5 linked regions of the Homo sapiens genome follow. The protein of the gene in region 2 purifies or fractionates together with the protein of the main gene of each other region. This does not show direct contact. Each region holds a gene or a part of one and is shown on either strand. Other genes may lie near its edges. The genes, in order: APAF1, GOLGA6L2, PRKAR2B, CAMK2B and PAWR.

Region 1 (3,974 bases), on a different chromosome or scaffold from region 2:
GCACTCAGTAAGTGATGGCTGAACCTTTTATGGTAGGATCTGTAATTTTAATATGTTCTGATTTAGGGTTTGAGGAGAAGGCAGTCTCTAATTTTTTTTTTCCTTATTTGAATCAGCATATTGAGAAGAGTATAGCAAAGAGGAAGAATCATTTTCCTAGATCTAGCCATCTATTTGTTTTAAAAAAAATTTAATTTGGTAGATTTTAAAAGACACTGGTGGGATTATCTTTTTAAAAGGAAGCTTAAGATAAGTGTCATTAGTGATTAATATTTTTTTTTTAAATTAGGTCTCTCTTGATCTTGGATGATGTTTGGGACTCTTGGGTGTTGAAAGCTTTTGACAGTCAGTGTCAGATTCTTCTTACAACCAGAGACAAGAGTGTTACAGATTCAGTAATGGGTAAGGATTATTCGTTTACTTTTTAGTACCTTTATATTTAATTTAATTACATTTAAATATGTGACATACCAAATTACTTACTTTGTCTTGTGATTTTTGTTTGCAGGTCCTAAATATGTAGTCCCTGTGGAGAGTTCCTTAGGAAAGGAAAAAGGACTTGAAATTTTATCCCTTTTTGTTAATATGAAGAAGGCAGATTTGCCAGAACAAGCTCATAGTATTATAAAAGAATGTAAAGGTATGGTTATTTATTTGTTTATGAGGAGATTATAGGGAGTTATATAATTTCCCTTTTGTTAATTGAGCTAATGAATATGGTAATTTAGCACATGAACATCCAAAAACTTTTCTGGGAGATTTAGTATTTTAGGTTCTCTGATATCTTAAATGGATACATGATATTATGGTATTTATTTATTCATTAAAATAATATTTACCATCTACCCACAGTGTGTTAGAGACCACATTAGTGAGAGAAGTGAGACACAGATGTGACCTCTGCTGTTAGAGTTAAAAATAGAGTGAGAATCAGATTTTAAAACTTGTTTTTGCTTGGGATTTTATAAAAATAGTGTTCTAATTTGGTAAGTAAAAACTGGTGTCTTAATTTGCATTTTTTTTTAGCGAAGTTAAACTTTTTACTTGTTTATTGAATACGTTTTAAGAAGTTATCCTTGACTTTAAGAAATTATCCTTGACTCACTTTTCTTTTTTGATATAAGTATTTTTAATTTATTTCTAAATACTCAAAAAATAGAAACTATTAGCTCTTTGTCATATTTTTACAAGTATTATTTCCCAGTAAAACAATTTTTTAACTTAAAATTTATATATAGAATCTCGCTGTGTTGCCCAGGCTGGTCTTGAACTACTTGCCTCAAATGATCCTCCTGCCTTAGCCTCCTAAAGCACTGGGACTACAGGCATGAGTCACCATGTCCAGCCTGTTACCCAGTTTTTTGTGTACCTTTTATTTGTTGTATTCTTTTGACATATAGAAGCTTAAAATTTTAAACAGTCAAATCTATCAACTCTTAAAATTATTTCTTTCATTATTGTTATGCTTGGAAATACCTTATTTTTCTTCTTTTTCTTTTTTTTTCTCTTTTGAGACAAGTCTCACTCTGTCGTCCAGGCTGGAGTGCAGTGGCGTGATCTCGGCTCACTGCAACTTCTGCCTCCCAGGTTCAAGCAGTTCTTCTGCCTCAGCCTCTCGAGTATCTGGGACTACAGGCATGTTCCACCATGCCTAGCTAATTTTTGTATTTTCAGTAGAGACGGGGTTTCGCCATGTTGGTCAGGCTGGTCTCGAACTCCTGACCTCAGGTGATTGCCCGCCTCAGCCTCCCAAAGTGCTGGGATTATAGGCATGAGCTACCATACCTGGCCACCTTATTTTTCATTCTGCCATCAAATAGACACACAGTTTTGTTTGTTTATTTATTTATTTATTTATTTTATTTATTTTTTGAGACGAGTCTCACTCTGTCGCCCAGGCTGGAGTGCAGTGGTGCGACCTCTGCTCACTGCAACCTCTGCTGCCCAGGTTCAAGTGATCCTCCTGCCTCAGCCCCCTAGTAGCTGGGATTACAGGTGCGTGCTACCTCACCCAGCTAATTTTTGTAGTTTTAGTAGAGATGGGGTTTCATCATCTTGGCCAGGGTAGTCTTGAACTCCTGACCTCGTGATCCACCTGCCTCAGCCACCCAAAGTGCTGGGATTACAGGCGTGAGCCACCACACGTGGCCAGTTTTGTTAATTTTTAAAGAAATCTTACACTTAGAAAAAATGCTTAATTTGTAGTTATTACAAAGGGTGATGCATGTCCATTTTGAAAATGTGTGAAACTAAAAAAAAAATAGAAATTATCCATAACCTGATAATTATTAGCATCATGAGAGTATTGCCTCCAGTCTTTTAGAACAAAGATTTAAAAAGTTGAGATTATGTATATGTGGTTTTGGATTTTGCCCTTTTTTTTTTAAAGAGCCAGGGTCTTGCTCTGTCACCCAGGCTGGAGTGCAGTAAGATCACAGCTCACTGCAGGCTTGAATGTCTTGGCTTAAGCAATCCTCCTGCCCCAGCCTCCTGAATAGCTGGGACTGCAGATACCCACCACCACACCTGGGTAATTTTTAAATTTTTTTGTAGGGACAGGGTCTCACTATGTTGCCCAGGCAGGTCTCAAACTTCTGCCCTCAAGCAATCCTCCCACCTCAGCCTCCTGAAGTGCTAGGACTACAGACACATGTCGCCACACCCAGCTGGATCTTACCCTTTTTCTATATCTTGAGCATTTTCCCATGTTGTTAAATATTTTTTTGAAAAAAATTTACCAGTGGCATAATATTGATATATCTTAATTTATTCAACCACTTCTGTATTATTGGACATTGTTTACGTTGTTTAAGATTTTTTCACTATTCTAAGTGTGCTGTGATGAATATCCTTAAACTTAATCATTCTTTTCTTTTTCTTTAAGACAGAGTCTCACACTGTTCCTCAGGCTAGGATGCAGTGGTGCTGTCATGGCTCACCGTAGCCTCAACCTCCTGGGCTGAAGCAATCCTCCCACCTCAGCCTCCTAAGTAGCCGGCACTATAGGCACACACCACCACACCTGGCTGATTTTTCTAATTTTTATTTTTAGTAGAGACAAGGTCTCATTATATTGCTTAGACTGGCGCATATATATATATATATATATATATTTTTTTTTTTTTTTGTAATGACATCTTAGCCAGATTTGATCTATGTTATTTTGACTTAATAAAGATAATCAGGAACTTACTGAATGAAATCTTTCTTATTTCTAATTTTTTTTGGGATAAATATCTAGAAGTGAAGTCAAGAGTGATAAATACTTAAGGCTTTTGATAACATGCAGCAGAAATTGTTTCTTAGTAATGTAAGTAAGTAAGTCGATTCTTATTAGTGACAAAATAGGATGGTATTAGCATAGTGACTTCATTTTTTTTTTAAAGGCTCTCCCCTTGTAGTATCTTTAATTGGTGCACTTTTACGTGATTTTCCCAATCGCTGGGAGTACTACCTCAAACAGCTTCAGAATAAGCAGTTTAAGAGAATAAGGAAATCTTCGTCTTATGATTATGAGGCTCTAGATGAAGCCATGTCTATAAGTGTTGAAATGCTCAGAGAAGACATCAAAGATTATTACACAGATCTTTCCATCCTTCAGAAGGACGTTAAGGTGCCTACAAAGGTAATGGGATCAATGATCCTCATCATTGGGTATTTATTGCATGTAAGCTTTGATATAGTACTGAGCATGTTGTTACAGAGAACCTTGGAAGGATAAGACCCAGGGGACTGAGGTGGTGGGGTGTTGGGTGTAGAAATCCCTCTGCTGTTAGCTTCCATTAAGGGCTTTGTGTTGAACTCAGGAGTTAACCTATTTCTGTGGTTCTAGTGCAGCTGAAGAAGCATCTGACTTCTCTTTCTCTTTTCTATCTTGAGGAGTAGCTGAGTTTCTTCTTAAGAAATGGAGACATTCTTACTCAGGGCTTTAAGATACCGTTTTTTTGTGTGTGTGATAATACCTGTCTACAGTC
Region 2 (3,327 bases):
CTTCCTGGCCTGGGGAATAGAGTCCAGGGGGCCACCCTCAGTCACCTTCCTTTGACTCTCCCCACAGACACAACAGAACCGAGCGCAGCTGAAAGAAGTAACGTGATTTGTTTGCTCACGACATGACTGCTGGGTTTGGAGGGCACTCAGATGTAGAGGCCCGTCTCATCTCGCCTACTCCCAGCTTGGGGAAGAAGGCTCACCGCCAAGATTCCACCCCATCCCCACAGGGTCCCTGATAACCTGGTCCCATGGGTGCGCCTGTCCTGGGGCATTGGTGCCATTCTGGGGGCATGTCTCTTGCTGTGGATCTCTGCCTCCCCCTAGTAAGAGCTCTGTCTTCCTCTTTCTATAGGAAAAGAAGGCAAGCCACCAACATCAGGAAGCCCTAAGGCGGGAGATAGAGGTGAGTGGAGGGTGTGAAGTTCCCTCCTGTCCTCTGGAGAAGGTTTTTTTGCTTCTCTTTCAGCACTTGCTTGTCTTTTCTCCCAAAGGCCCAGGATCATACAATACGAATTCTCACGTGTCAGAAAACTGAACTGGAGACAGCGCTCTATTACAGCCAGGATGCTGCCAGGAAATTTGAAGATGGGAACCTGGGCACCCCATCATCCTTCAACCTGGCACTTTCACAGGCCTTTAGGGGGAGTCCTTTGGGCTGTGTCTCAACCTCTCTCATTCCAGGAGAGTCCAAGGATCTCGCCGGCCGCTTGCATCATTCCTGGCACTTTGCAGGAGAGTTACAGCGGGCTCTCTCTGCTGTGTCCACATGGCACAAGAAGGCAGACAGGGTAAGTCCAATCACCTCCCCAGTCTCCTGGGATCCCAGCTTCGCAGATGGAGGAATGAGCCTAAAGGTCCCTCCTGCAGGATGCAGTGTCCTGCCCAGAAGATAGTATGGGTCATTTCTTGCTGCTTTTGTGTGTGGTTATTAGAGGCAGGTTGGGGCTGAGTCAGCTGCTGTGGGTGAGTTGGGGGGCACTGTGGGGAGCGAGCACTGGACACAGAGCTCCAAGGCCAAGAGCCTGCCCTGCCCATACTTGGCTGTGGCCTTGACCAAGTCCTAGGCAGGGGTTAAGGTATTTGTACCATGAAGGTACAGAAGAGTATCTTTAGTATGTTACCATTTGTGTAGAGAGAGGGAACACACATAAGTGTGCATGTGCGTGTGTGTGTGTGTGTGTGTGTGTACGTATTATGGTAACATACATAAAAACATATTTGTAAGGATTCATAAAAAACTCAGGAGACAGGAACAGTGTGTGTGGGGTAGATATTTCCCTTCTCTACCTTCTGAGTTTTGGACTATGCCAATGTATCGTTCTTTCAAAAAGTCAACAAAGGATTAATTTCCTCCTTCTTATCTGTGCCCCTACCCCCAGGGAAAGAATGGGCTTAGAGAATCAGATACACCTGGGTGTTGAAATCCCAGCTCTGTCAAAGTGATCTTAGGCAACCATTTAACTTTTAATACCCCATGTTTTGCATCTATACAATAGAGGTAATAATGGTAACCGTCTCCTATGGAGGTTGTGAGGATTAAATGGGATTGTTAGCATAGTGCCTGGTGAAGCACTCAAGAAAGGTTCCAACAGTGGCAGTAATAACAGTAATAGCAATAGCAATATTATCTGATCTCTCTGGGCCCCTGTTAGCCAGCTATCAATTCAGTCTCTTTCCCTGTCCCTTCTACCCTTACTGAGTTCTCTGAAAAACAAGTGAGAGCCAGGTGTGGTAGCGCATGCCTGTAATCCCAGCTACTTAGGAGGCTGAGGCAGAATTGCTTGAACCCGGGAGGCAGAGGTTGTCATGGGGCGAGATTGCGCCATTGCACTCCAGCCTGGGCAACAAGAGCAAAACTCCATCTCTAAAAGAAGAAAAGGAGAAAAAAAAAAAGAAAAAAAAATGAGACCATGGGCTTGGAATTGCCTTGAGAACATGTCGGGTGTGATGGAGAGTGAGGGAGTGTTACTGTGGAGTATCAGTGTAGCTGTTGTTCCTGGTCGGCCAGCTGCTCTTCTGCCTGCTCTGTCCTGACTTAACCTTTCTCTATTTGCAGTACATCGAGGAGTTAACAAAGGAGAGGGACGCCCTGAGTCTGGAACTGTACAGGAACACGTAGGATGGGGGAAGGTGGGATGGGAGGTCTGGGGGCCCTTAGCGTGGGTGGTGTGCTGGGAGGTGGGGGGTACAGGTGAGCATGGTAGGGGGTCATACAGGTTTACATGTGTGCACAGGGAAGCTCTAGTGCCGGCTGTGCCACTGACTCATGGGGTAGCCTCAGGCAACTCATGTCTTCTCTCTGGCCTGCCACCTGGGACTTTTAATTCCTGGGGTCCCTTCCAGTGCCACGGTTCTGTGCTTGTGGGGCGAGAGTAGAGGGTTGATCACCAAAGCAGTCCTTTCTGTTCTTCGTTCATTCCTTTCTCTACTGCCTCGGGCCATAGCATAACCAATGAGGAGCTGAAGAAGAAAAATGCCGAACTACAAGAAAAACTTCGACTTGCAGAATCTGAAAAGTCTGAGATCCAGCTCAACGTGAAGGAGCTAAAAAGGAAACTGGAGAGGGCCAAGTTCCTGCTGCCACAGGTGAGCGGCTGCAGCCCCAGGGGTTGTGGGAGACCCATCCAGCTAGGACCATGGTCTAGGGATCATGCAAGGTATGGGGAGGGTCCAGCCAAGAGCTGGAAAATTTGGGTCCTTGTTCTGGTCCCACCATAGAATCCTCTAGAGTGTGCTAAAAATCTACAAATTTGGGGCCCTGCCTGGGAAATCAGAACCTCAGTGTTAAGGCTTAAAAATTTTTTTTAAAGAATCATAGATGAAAACTGTTATTTTATAGATTACATTTATATAGCTAGTTCATAAGTCTATTTCCTTTTGAGGTTCAAACCAACACTTTGCAGGAGGAGATGTGGAGGCAGGAGGAGGAGCTACGGGAGCAGGAAAAGAAGATACGGAAGCAGGAGGAGAAGATGTGGAGACAGGAGGAGAGACTGCGGGAGCAGGAGGGGAAGATGCGGGAGCAGGAGGAGAAGATGCGGAGACAGGAGAAGAGGCTGCGAGAGCAGGAGAAGGAGCTGCGGGAGCAGGAGAAGGAGCTGCGGGAGCAGAAGAAGCTGCGGGAGCAGGAGGAGCAGATGCAGGAGCAGGAGGAGAAGATGTGGGAGCAGGAGGAGAAGATGCGGGAGCAGGAAGAGAAGATGTGGAGACAGGAGGAGAGGCTGTGGGAGCAGGAGAAGCAGATGCGGGAGCAGGAGCAGAAGATGCGGGACCAAGAGGAGAGGATGTGGGAGCAGGACGAGAGGCTACGGGAGAAGGAGGAGA
Region 3 (3,974 bases), on a different chromosome or scaffold from region 2:
GAACATCACACACCGGGGCCTGTCAGGGGGTGGGGAGTGAAGGTAGGGAGAGTATTAGGACAGATACCTAATGCATGCGGGGCTTAAAACCAGACAGGTTGATAGGTATAGCAAACCTCCATGGCACATGTATACCTGTGTAACAAACCTGCATGTTCTCCACATGTATCCCTGATTTAAAGTAAAATTTTAAAAAAAGGAAAAAAAAATTAGCTGGGTGTGGTAGCACATGCCTGTAATCCCAGCTACTTGGGAGGGTGAGGTGGGAGAGTCGCCTGAATCCAGGAGGTGGAGGCTGCAGTGAGCTGAGATTGCACCACTGCACTCCAGCCTGGGTGACAGAGCGAGACTCCATCTTGGGGGGGAAAAAGAAAGTATTATTTCAAATAATTTTACAAATGAAATCATTACTACATAATTGTCCATCAAAACCTCTTCATTTAGGGCCGGGCTCGGTGGCTCACGCCTGTAATCCCAGCACTTTGGGAGGCCGACGCAGGCAGATCTCGAGGTCAGGAGATCAAGACCATCCTGGCTAACACGTTGAAACCCCGTCTCTACTAAAAATACAAATAAATTAGCCGGGCGTGGTGGCAGACGCCTGTAGTCCCAGCCACCCAGGAGGCTGAGGCAGGAGAATGGTGTGAACCCGGGAGGTGGAGCTTGTAGTGAGCCGAGATCGCGCCACTGCATTCCAGTCTGGGCAACAGAGTGAGACTCCGTCTCAAAAAAAAAAAAAACCTCTTGATTTAGAAACCGAGACAGCTTGTTCCCTTAGGATTTCACTTTTCAGGTGAATATGTGTACTTTGGGGTTGGATCAATTTTAGGGATATGAAAGGTAACAAGATTGTTGTCAATTAATTTGCATTTTCACCGTCTGTTTTTGTTATTGATTCCAATAGGGAGATTCGGCTGATTCTTTTTTCATTGTAGAATCTGGAGAAGTGAAAATTACTATGAAAAGAAAGGTAAGCATTCTAAGTCCTCAGAACCCACATACTGTTAGCAAGGAACACAACAGATCTACTTTTTGATGTTTAGACTGAGGTTAATTTTATTTTTCATAAGCTGAGGAAAAGCTCATCTTTTTAATTGCCTTGTCAGGGTAAATCAGAAGTGGAAGAGAATGGTGCAGTAGAAATCGCTCGATGCTCGCGGGGACAGTACTTTGGAGAGCTTGCCCTGGTAACTAACAAACCTCGAGCAGCTTCTGCCCACGCCATTGGGACTGTCAAATGTTTAGGTAGGGATTGCAACAGTGGGCGTGCTTCTGCTGGTTGAACTTATGTCTGCATTTTATGTATTCATGTTGAGTGAATCATTTTATTGGGTTCACAGGTTTTGTGGTCCCCACAAAAGGTAACAAGATTAGGACTCATTGCCTTATAAAATCAATTTGTGGAAGCCATTTTTTCTTCGAAATTTTTACATCCAGATACATTTTGCTCTTCTTGTGTATATATGAAATAACATCCCATATTAGTCATTAAAATAAGAGTTCCAAGTACCACGTTTTATATGGAATCTCTCAAATAAGCAACATGTGCTATGTTCCTCAAAAGAGAAGGCTAAAGTACTATTTTTATAAAGTCCGTTATTAAGATCTGCGGGGAATGCTGAGATGTTGTGAGAATCCTTACTCATTACAGTATTGGGACACAAAGGTTCAGGTTTGTCAAAGCACAGTCAAATGTTCTTTGCTGTTCAGTTGTTATTACTATTTTACCAGAGTAGCTTGGCAGAAATGTCATCTTCAGGTGCAGGCATCTGTATATATCTGAGATTATATATCTGAGAAATCACTTACTTTGATAAGAAAATACAGTTTAGAAGGTGGCAATATGGAGGGTATTTTAAGAAAATTGATCTCACAGTTATTACCCTCTCTGTGCTTTTCATCCATAATTCAATAGCATAAACTTAATGTTTTTAAGATTTGCAAGGATCCTTAGAATTAACTTCTTAGAGAAGTCATTCTTTAAAAGGGTTTAAATAAGTATAATATTAATCAAGTGTTAAATTTGGATGGAAGAGAAGACGATTAGAAACTGGCAGGTAATTTCCCTAAGTAGGGCTATTAGAAAGAGTAAAGGTGAGTGAGTGAAAGTCTATTAGAAATAGTAAAGGTGAGTGAGTGAAAGTCTATTACAGTAAAGGTGAGTGAGTGAAAGTCTATTAGAAAGAGTAAAGGTGAGTGAGTGAAAGTCTGTTAATTTTTTTTCAATAATAGATTATTATACTCACATCAAAGAAAACCTGAGAAATACAGAAAATGTAGAAAAAACATAACACCGCCACTCAGTGATTTCTGCTATTATAATTCCTTCTTGTCCTTTTTATTTGTGTGGGCTTCCAGTTGTTAAACAGTTTTCCAAACAACTTTTAAAGTTCATTATCGCTTAGGAATGTTCTTATTTTATTACACCAAATTTTAAAATTCTTTTAGGTAAATATATACACGATAAATTAATCATTCCTTAGTGGTAAATACTTCGAAGGTTTTGGCTCCAACTTTTTTGTGGGGAGCAATTTTTTGTGCATAGAAGACTTTTCTGTATTATAGGAGTTTTCCTTAGAAATGGTTTTCAGGAGTGGGTTTTTAAAAAATTAACTTTTGACACATATTGCCAGATTACTTGTATTTGTACACTACTAGCAGTGCCATAATGCCCATTCACCCTATTCTTGTAAACATTGCCTTTTTTATCTTTTTATCTTTAGTGTAAAAGGCAAAGAAGATCTATTTTAATTTGTACTTTTATGTATAGAGTATGATCATATTTTCTATTTATATATTATAAATCCAGTTTTAAAATCCAGGAGACAGGCAAGCAAAGTGATTTCTAGCATGTACTTATAGAAGTAAACAAAAGCATTATGTCAGCTGCCATTTTTGGATTGCATAGACATAGTATGGCAGCAAAACTTACAAAAGGTTAACACTTGGCCTTCACAACATGGCATTTTAAACCCTGAGAAGGGAACACAGGATAGAAAACACTCTTGTGCCACCCTTGAGGAGTTCACATTGCTAAGGTGGAGACAGCACATTTATTTTTTAAAATTCTAAGGTCTTTCCATGATAGTCCCTCATTCTTTTCTCAGCTTGGACCAGGAACCTCCCACCAACTTAGCATTGCTCATCATATTGCCGAGGGACTGCAGAGTGTGGTCCAAGAGCGTGGCCCTGGCTGCTTCCTTTTTCAAGTGGAACATTTTTATCATTATGCTTTTTCTTGTATTTTATAGTATTTACCTAAAATATCATTGCACTATTGATATATATGGAGTCGGTATTGTAAATGACTTAGAAATTCTGCAGATTTGCAAAGAATGTTATTTAAAAAAAAATCTTCTCTTTTCTCAGCAATGGATGTGCAAGCATTTGAAAGGCTTCTGGGACCTTGCATGGAAATTATGAAAAGGAACATCGCTACCTATGAAGAACAGTTAGTTGCCCTGTTTGGAACGAACATGGATATTGTTGAACCCACTGCATGAAGCAAAAGTATGGAGCAAGACCTGTAGTGACAAAATTACACAGTAGTGGTTAGTCCACTGAGAATGTGTTTGTGTAGATGCCAAGCATTTTCTGTGATTTCAGGTTTTTTCCTTTTTTTACATTTACAACGTATCAATAAACAGTAGTGATTTAATAGTCAATAGGCTTTAACATCACTTTCTAAAGAGTAGTTCATAAAAAAATCAACATACTGATAAAATGACTTTGTACTCCACAAAATTATGACTGAAAGGTTTATTAAAATGATTGTAATATATAGAAAGTATCTGTGTTTAAGAAGATAATTAAAGGATGTTATCATAGGCTATATGTGTTTTACTTATTCAGACTGATAATCATATTAGTGACTATCCCCATGTAAGAGGGCACTTGGCAATTAAACATGCTACACAGCATGGCATCACTTTTTTTTATAACTCATTAAACACAGTAAAATTTTAATCATTTTT
Region 4 (3,974 bases), on a different chromosome or scaffold from region 2:
CCCCACAAAAATTGAATCTGATTTGATTATTTTTAAAGCATCTTTTACAGCTGCAAGTCACTTTGTTAGTGTAGAAACATAAAAATGCATTATGTATCAACTTGGTTTTTAAAAAATTATCATATTGGCATATTACACAGATATGTATATTTTATTCATAGAAAAACTTGAATTTATTTAAAATGAAAACATCCTTTTATGTTAGAGAAAGGTGGTGTTGCTAGCTGCCAAACTTTTGGGTGGCTTTTGTCTCCTGGGTTAGAGGGTCACTTGTTGAGGGCTCAGTTCCTGGTGGACATAGTTCTTTTTGTATTGACATAATTATCCAAAAATAACTTAAGTTATGATTCTTTGTTAAGCCAGACAGAAGCTTTTGTTGAATTCTAGAACAGATTGGCAACAACCAGGCAAAGATTTAAGAAGATTTTATGGGAGGAAGCATAATGGCACACTTGTACAGGGTGGAATTTGGGACCCACAGTCCTTGTTTCCTCACTTTGTGAGCAGCAAGAGAAGCCTGGAGGGCAGGAGCTGCTGTCGCCCTTACAATGAAGTACTGCAGGTGTTATGCCTTTTGCTGTAATGCCCTCTGGGTGTCAAGCACATCCCAGTGAGTGCCGTTTCCAGCAAGGAGCTGAGGAGCCTTGATTCTGTCACCCAACACACCCTGAATTCAAGTGCTGAGAACAGTGCCTGGCACACAGTAGGTGCTCCACAGTGACTCAGCAATGGTCTGGGTCACTCAGGCCTTGCACCTGGGACTGCTTCCCAGAGCAGTGGCACACCCACCCTGTAAAAGATGAGGGCCTTATAAGAGGTATTGGGTGGCTCTGCAGGTAGGTCTTGCGGGTATTCTGATGTCCAGTCTGGGTAGACAGTCTTGTCACCCGGTGAAATGCAGTAGCAGGGCTGTCAGCACTTATATGTCTGTCATGGAGCTTGACTCCAAGAGGCTTGCAGCTTTCAGCTAATTTCTTAATGAGGTTGTTCACATGACTTCTTGTTTGTTGAGGTGCTGCCTGATTCTCAGCGTCTGTGAGTTTGATCCAGGCCATTAGTTAGGGGCTTTCTGGGCAAAGGGTAGGAGTCTGGTTAGGAGCAGGCCCTCCCAAAGAAGATGACCATGTGGTGGTTCTCAACCCCAACCACACATGGGAAGCCCCTGAGGAGTGTTCAGGCCCCATCGCATTTAGCCAGACACTAGGGAAATGGGGTATCAGCAGTTTTTAAAAGCTCCCAGGTGATTCCAATGGGCACTGCATACCTAGACTCTGCAGAGGAGTCTGCACCTGAGGCCAGACACTCGCCTAAGCCCACACTCCTTCATATAACCCTTGGTTCTTTCAGAGCCCACCTAGGCATGAATTTGAAGTTTACCTTCATTTTCTCTACATTCACAATGACATTACTACCCCACCGCCCACCCCATCCAAGTTGTCGAGAGCTGCATTGTCCAGAAGAGATAAAATGTGATACAAAGTTGAGCCATATGTGTGATTAAAAATTTTCTAGTACGTAAAGAAAAAAAAGAAACAGGTGAAAGGAACTTTAAAAATATATTTATTTAACTTTATATCCAAAATATCATTCAGAGGCCTGGTGCGGTGGCTCGTGCCTGTAATCCCAGCACTTTGGGAGGCCAAGGTGGGTGGATCACTTGAGCCCAGGAGTTAGAGACCGTGGGCAACATGGCAAAACCCCATCTGTACAAAAATTAAAAAATCATTTCAACATGTAATCAAAACAGAAATTATTAAGCTATTTTGCATTCCTTTTTGTACTACGTCTTGAAATCTGGTGTGTATTTTACCCTTACGGCACATCTCAGTTTGGACCAGGTTCTTATGACTACATGGTGACAGTGACCACAGTATTGGACAACACAGGGCCAGAGCTTCAAAATCACCATGCTTTTTTTTTTTTTTTTCATTTTTCCTGGTTTCTTTTAAGGATAATAGTTACAGTCATAGCTGTCTTAGTCTGTTCCAGATTTCTTTTGCTCTCCTGAAGACTTATTCATTTATTCAGCAAGTCTGGTTGCCTGTACTTACCATGTGCCATAGGTGCTTGGGAAACAGTAGTGAACAAAGCAGTCAAGGATGCCTGCCCTTAGGGAGCTTATATACTGCTGGATAGAGGCAGGCAATAAACATAAATACTAAAAAAATTATATGATAGGGTAGAAGGTGATTAATACCTCTGAGAATAATTAAGAAGACTCAGGAGTGCTAGTTAGGAGGAAGGTTATTATTATAAAAAGGATGGTAAAGCCAAGAAAAAAGAAGACTCCAATTGCTAAAATCAGGAATGACACAGGGGACCTTACTGCCAACCTTACAGAAAAAAAATTATAAGGAAATAACTATGAATAATTATGTGCCCTCAAGTTAGATAACCTGGATGAAATGGACAAATACTTAGAAAGACACAAACTACTGAATCTGGCTCAAGAAGAAATAGAAAATCTGAATAGACCTATAACAAGTAGAGACTGACTTAGTAATTTAAAATTTTCCCACAAAGGAAAGCTTAGGCTCAGATAATTTCACTGGTAAATCCTACCAAACATTTAAAGAAGAATTAATACCAGTCTTTTACAAGCTCCCCCAAAAAGTAGAAGAGGAGGAAATTCTTTCCAATTCATTCTGTGAAGCCAGCAATACCCTAATACCAAAACCAAAGATATCACAAAACTACAGACTGTTATCACTTATGAATGCAGATGAAGCATCCTCAACAAAACACTAGCAAAATAAATCTAGCAACATATAAAAAGGATTATTTATACATTATGAACAAGTAGGATGTATCCCAAGAATGAAAGGTTCATTCAGCATACAAAAATCAATCTATATAATACACCACGTTGATAGAACAAACATTGAAACTATATGAACCATTTCAATAGATGCAGAAAAAGCATTTAAAAAAAAACCAATACCATTTCATGATAAAAACTCAACAAATGACAAGTAGAAAGGAACTTCCTTAACTTGATAAAATACATTTGTGAAAAATCTGCAGCTAACCTCATATTTAATGGTGGAAAACTGAATGTATCTGCTCTTTCCATTTCTAGGCAGCACGGTATAGGAGATTCTAGCCAGGGCAATTAGGCAAGAAAAAGAGATAGAAGGCTCCCAGATTGGAAATAAATAGTTATAGCTACCTCTCTTTTCAGATTACATGCTTTCGTATATAGAAAATCCTAAGGAATCCATTTAAAAAACTATTAGAACTAAAAAATGAATTTAGCAAAGTTGCAAGATGTAAGACCAATATACAAAAATCCATTGTATTTCAATGGACTAGAAGTTCAAAATAACAAAATTAGGAAAAACAATTTACAATAGCATCTAAAAAATAAAACACTTAATACTAAATTTAATAAAAGAAGTACAAGACTTGTACATTGAAAACCACAAACCACTGTTGAGAGAAATTAAAGAAGACCTAAATTAATGGAAAGACATCCCATGTTCATGGATTGGAATATTTAATATTGTTAAATAGTAGTATACTCCAAATTGACCTACATTTTTGCTATGAAAATTCCAGCTGCGTTTTTTGCAAAAATTGACAACCTGGCCCTAAAATTCACATAGGAATGCAAGAGACCCAAAATAGCTAAAACAATCTTGAAAAAGGAGAACAAAGTCAGAGGACTCACGGGTTCTGATTTCAAAACTAACTACACAGTTACAGCAATCAAGACAGTGTGGTGTTGACATAAGGATAAATACATAGATCAGTGAAATAGGATTGAGAGTGTAGAATAAATCCATACATCTATGTTCAGTTGATTTTTTACAAGGGTGCCAAGACAATTCCAGTGGAGAAGAATAACGGTCCATTCAACAAATGGACAATTGAGTATCCACATGCAGAAGAATGAAGTTGGAGCTGTACTTGACACCATATACAAAAATTATTTCAAAATAAATAATAGATCTAAATGTAGGAGCTAAAATCAC
Region 5 (3,267 bases), on a different chromosome or scaffold from region 2:
AGAGGGAAGTTTTGCTTGCTAGTGTCTATCTGGTTAGACATCAGAATAAAATGAATGGACTGTAAAGGATCTTATAACCAGTCTCTCTCTTTAATATGAAGGCCCAACATTACATAATTCTTTTTAAGAGTTGACCAGGAATGAAATGTAACCTCTTTTAAAGATGAAGAAAAACTGAAAAAATGAGATTAAGAAAATATGTGGGTAGTTTACAGCTGCTGATAGAATTGTGTGCACGCGTGCATGCATGCATAAACACAAAGTGAATCTAGAAGGGAAAAAATTGAGTTTGATGAAGTCTAAGATGAAAGGTTCCATTTCATGTAAGATTATGTGACCTTGGAAAAATTTACTGGCTTGCTAGTGGAATACGTCCTTATATAGGGACTTGAAGAGTTTATCTAAATAGACTGACTTAAGGATGCTTTTCCTCTTGTTAGACTTGTATGACATTACTGAGAAGATTTAGAGTTCTAGAAGTAGAGAAGACTGATTAGCTTGTGCCTGTGTATGAAGAATGACAAATTAAGACAAAAGGTTATGTAAACCATTTACTAAAAAAGTCTAAATTTTTATATTCCTAGGCCCCTACTTATCTTTTACAAACTTTGAAGGACCTGAAATTCTTTGGACACCATCAGATTTAGTTTATAAGAGTTCTGATTTTGAATCAAGAAATTATTCATGTAGTTTTAAAACACAATTAAAATTTTCAGTCAGGCTGAACTTTTGTGCACTTCCTCATTTATTCGAGAAACCCCACCACTAATGTATTTAGACCTTAATATGATGGCTTTGAGTCTTAAATCATTGTCCACCTAAAATAATATACCAAATAAAGATTTTTAAAGTGCTGCATATGGTTTCTGTAAGAGGTACATAATTAGATTACCAGCATTATCCTTTAGCTTCAAAAGTAAAACTCATAGTCAGGATTTTACTGATAGTACAGGAAGAAAAAAAATAACCACTGTTGAAAAATAAATGAAAAAAATTTTATTGAGTATTACTTTATACATGCAAATTGAAAGTGAATCTATATTAAGTTGACTATTCCACAATAAAAACCTATGAAATGGGAATGATCAAAGCTGTCTAACACAATACTAATGTGTTCAATAAATTATCCAGATGTTTTTCCACAAATATTTGGATTACCTGAATTAGCTGATTCTTCAGCAAAAGTTAAATTTTAGCTTTAATATGGTAGCAGCAGGATGCTACTTAAATTTAGAAGAAAAACATAAGAATAAAAACCCTGAATAGCATAGCCAAATCTTCCAAGAAATAAGTTCACCAAAAAAGTAGCATACACCTATTTGGTATCCAGAGGAGGAAACAAAACACAGGCACTTAATCAACATCCACCAAGTGATCATCACTAACATTCTATTATTACCAGAGTAACTGTCGATATGTGAACTGTAGATTAGAACAGACTTACATATCTAAAAACAAACCAGTAATCAATAATATATACAGAAATACTAACTTGAAGTCACATTTAAATACCATCAACAGTTTGGTGTATCTGATATAACTGAATTCATTTCATCACTGCTATAAATTCCTTAAAAGTGTTCTTTTCCTAATTAACATTATCTTTAAAAAATGGTAGATATTTCCCAGTATGCATCAGTTTTTTCACTCCACCATTCAGTAAATGTTGTAGCAAATTAAATAGAACCTATTAACTAGATCTAAAAACAGTGGCTGAATACTTAACACAAAGAAGTACTTTTGAGTAAACTATTCAGATTAGACAGGCTAATGCTAAGACTGCATTTTGTGCTACTGACATGCACTATATAGATCGTACACTACTAGATGGAAAGTTGGTCCATGTCCATTTATTTAAAGATTCTGTAACACCTGTAATAGTATTTAATACAGCTCCCACATACTATATTCCTCTCACATAGACATAGTTATTTTTAGTGGGGATAAGGATATGACTTTAACATGCTATGAGATTCTAGCTAAGTAAAATAAAAACAATATGGACTCAGATTTTCTTAGGAGATATTAGTTCAAGTTTTTAAACTGGGAAACAATCAACTTCCATATATCCAGGAGAAACTTAGCATGGGGGGAGGTGCCTTAGTTGATGTGCCTGATAAGCAAACTGTTAGTTGTCTATTAGTATTATGTTTTCGGCTTAATGTAACAACAAAAGAAAGTTGTCACACTACCTCTCAGATAATATCAATTACAATCTTAGAGACTGTAATTGGGAATACAATCCTATAACAAGTTATTAACAATATCATGAATAGTTATTAAGTAAGTGCCAGCACTACATGCAACTTACTGGTCACCAACTCAGAACCCATAAAACTATACACATATGCACAAAAAAAAAACTCCAAAGAAAGATACCTATCACTGTACATATGAATACTGTCCAGGATATCAGATCAATTATCAAATCCAAGGTCTCTGCTGTTTTGTCTTACAGTGTTGAATATATGAATGCTTCTCTATTACACTGACTTGTACTATTTTCAAGAAATTAAGTGGATTCAAAATCTTACATTTTTATTTCTAATTATAAAATCCAGATTAATCCAAAAAACACAAACCACATGTAACCGAGGTAGGTTTTTCACCTTAAGAATACATTGCTTCTACCACAATTAAAAATTTTTTAAACTGAAGAAAAAAAAAAACTACATTGCTCCACATACCTGATACTTAATTTTCTATGTTTGAAACTACTTGAACAAGTGTGACAGTGCTAATCTACTATATTTAGTAAATCCCTTAGTACCTATAAATACACACCCAAAAGCCCTTCCCTCCTTCTCTAATGGTAACTGTTGTATAATAAAATTGTCAACAACTCTAGAAAGATGAAATAAAGATTACTATAGCAATCTTCAATTAATTCATTTCAGAAATCAAGGAGGCAAGTCATGTTCATTTTAAAGATGACAAACTTACTATTTTGAAAATGAGCTCATAAATACATTAGAACTTTGAATGTGCTTTATTATGCCACAAATTCCCAGGAGATTTAAGAAATAGTATTTCTGAACAGGAATAATAATTTCACAAATACTAACACTTTATTGACAATAGACAAGTCTTTTAGGGTAGTGCACATGTACTTAAAAACTACCTTCTACCAATCTCAACACTTTTTATAAATTTTCAGGTGAAACTGTAGCAGATCCTACTTTATTTTTCAATGGTTAGTGTAAAATTCTGTATGTAAAATAAGTACATATTTTGAGATGGAAGAAGGACTGCATGTGAAATGCTTTG

The links.
Region 1: the proteins of GOLGA6L2 (region 2) and APAF1 purify together in Homo sapiens (affinity purification with mass spectrometry; one large-scale study listed by BioGRID and IntAct). This does not show direct contact.
Region 3: the proteins of GOLGA6L2 (region 2) and PRKAR2B purify together in Homo sapiens (affinity purification with mass spectrometry; one large-scale study listed by BioGRID and IntAct). This does not show direct contact.
Region 4: the proteins of GOLGA6L2 (region 2) and CAMK2B purify together in Homo sapiens (affinity purification with mass spectrometry; one large-scale study listed by BioGRID and IntAct). This does not show direct contact.
Region 5: the proteins of GOLGA6L2 (region 2) and PAWR purify together in Homo sapiens (affinity purification with mass spectrometry; one large-scale study listed by BioGRID and IntAct). This does not show direct contact.

Annotation. Positions count from the first base shown.
Region 1 is NC_000012.12:98,662,167-98,666,140, forward strand, and holds part of APAF1 (apoptotic protease-activating factor 1), read left to right. Parts: intron 1-289; coding exon 290-402; intron 403-508; coding exon 509-640; intron 641-2,884; coding exon of another isoform or gene 2,885-2,913; exon of another isoform or gene 2,914-3,192; intron 3,193-3,386; coding exon 3,387-3,625; intron 3,626-3,974. UniProt on the Homo sapiens protein: Oligomeric Apaf-1 mediates the cytochrome c-dependent autocatalytic activation of pro-caspase-9 (Apaf-3), leading to the activation of caspase-3 and apoptosis. This activation requires ATP. Isoform 6 is less effective in inducing apoptosis.
Region 2 is NC_000015.10:23,441,241-23,444,567, reverse strand, and holds part of GOLGA6L2 (golgin subfamily A member 6-like protein 2), read left to right. Parts: intron 1-67; coding exon 68-97; intron 98-355; coding exon 356-406; intron 407-494; coding exon 495-791; intron 792-2,059; coding exon 2,060-2,118; intron 2,119-2,447; coding exon 2,448-2,589; intron 2,590-2,885; coding exon 2,886-3,327.
Region 3 is NC_000007.14:107,156,080-107,160,053, forward strand, and holds part of PRKAR2B (cAMP-dependent protein kinase type II-beta regulatory subunit), read left to right. Parts: intron 1-904; coding exon 905-970; intron 971-1,106; coding exon 1,107-1,245; intron 1,246-3,369; coding exon 3,370-3,503; 3' UTR 3,504-3,974. UniProt on the Homo sapiens protein: Regulatory subunit of the cAMP-dependent protein kinases involved in cAMP signaling in cells. Type II regulatory chains mediate membrane association by binding to anchoring proteins, including the MAP2 kinase.
Region 4 is NC_000007.14:44,315,202-44,319,175, reverse strand, and holds part of CAMK2B (calcium/calmodulin-dependent protein kinase type II subunit beta), read left to right. Parts: intron 1-3,974. UniProt on the Homo sapiens protein: Calcium/calmodulin-dependent protein kinase that functions autonomously after Ca(2+)/calmodulin-binding and autophosphorylation, and is involved in dendritic spine and synapse formation, neuronal plasticity and regulation of sarcoplasmic reticulum Ca(2+) transport in skeletal muscle.
Region 5 is NC_000012.12:79,586,818-79,590,084, forward strand, and holds part of PAWR (PRKC apoptosis WT1 regulator protein), read right to left. Parts: 3' UTR 1-3,267. UniProt on the Homo sapiens protein: Pro-apoptotic protein capable of selectively inducing apoptosis in cancer cells, sensitizing the cells to diverse apoptotic stimuli and causing regression of tumors in animal models.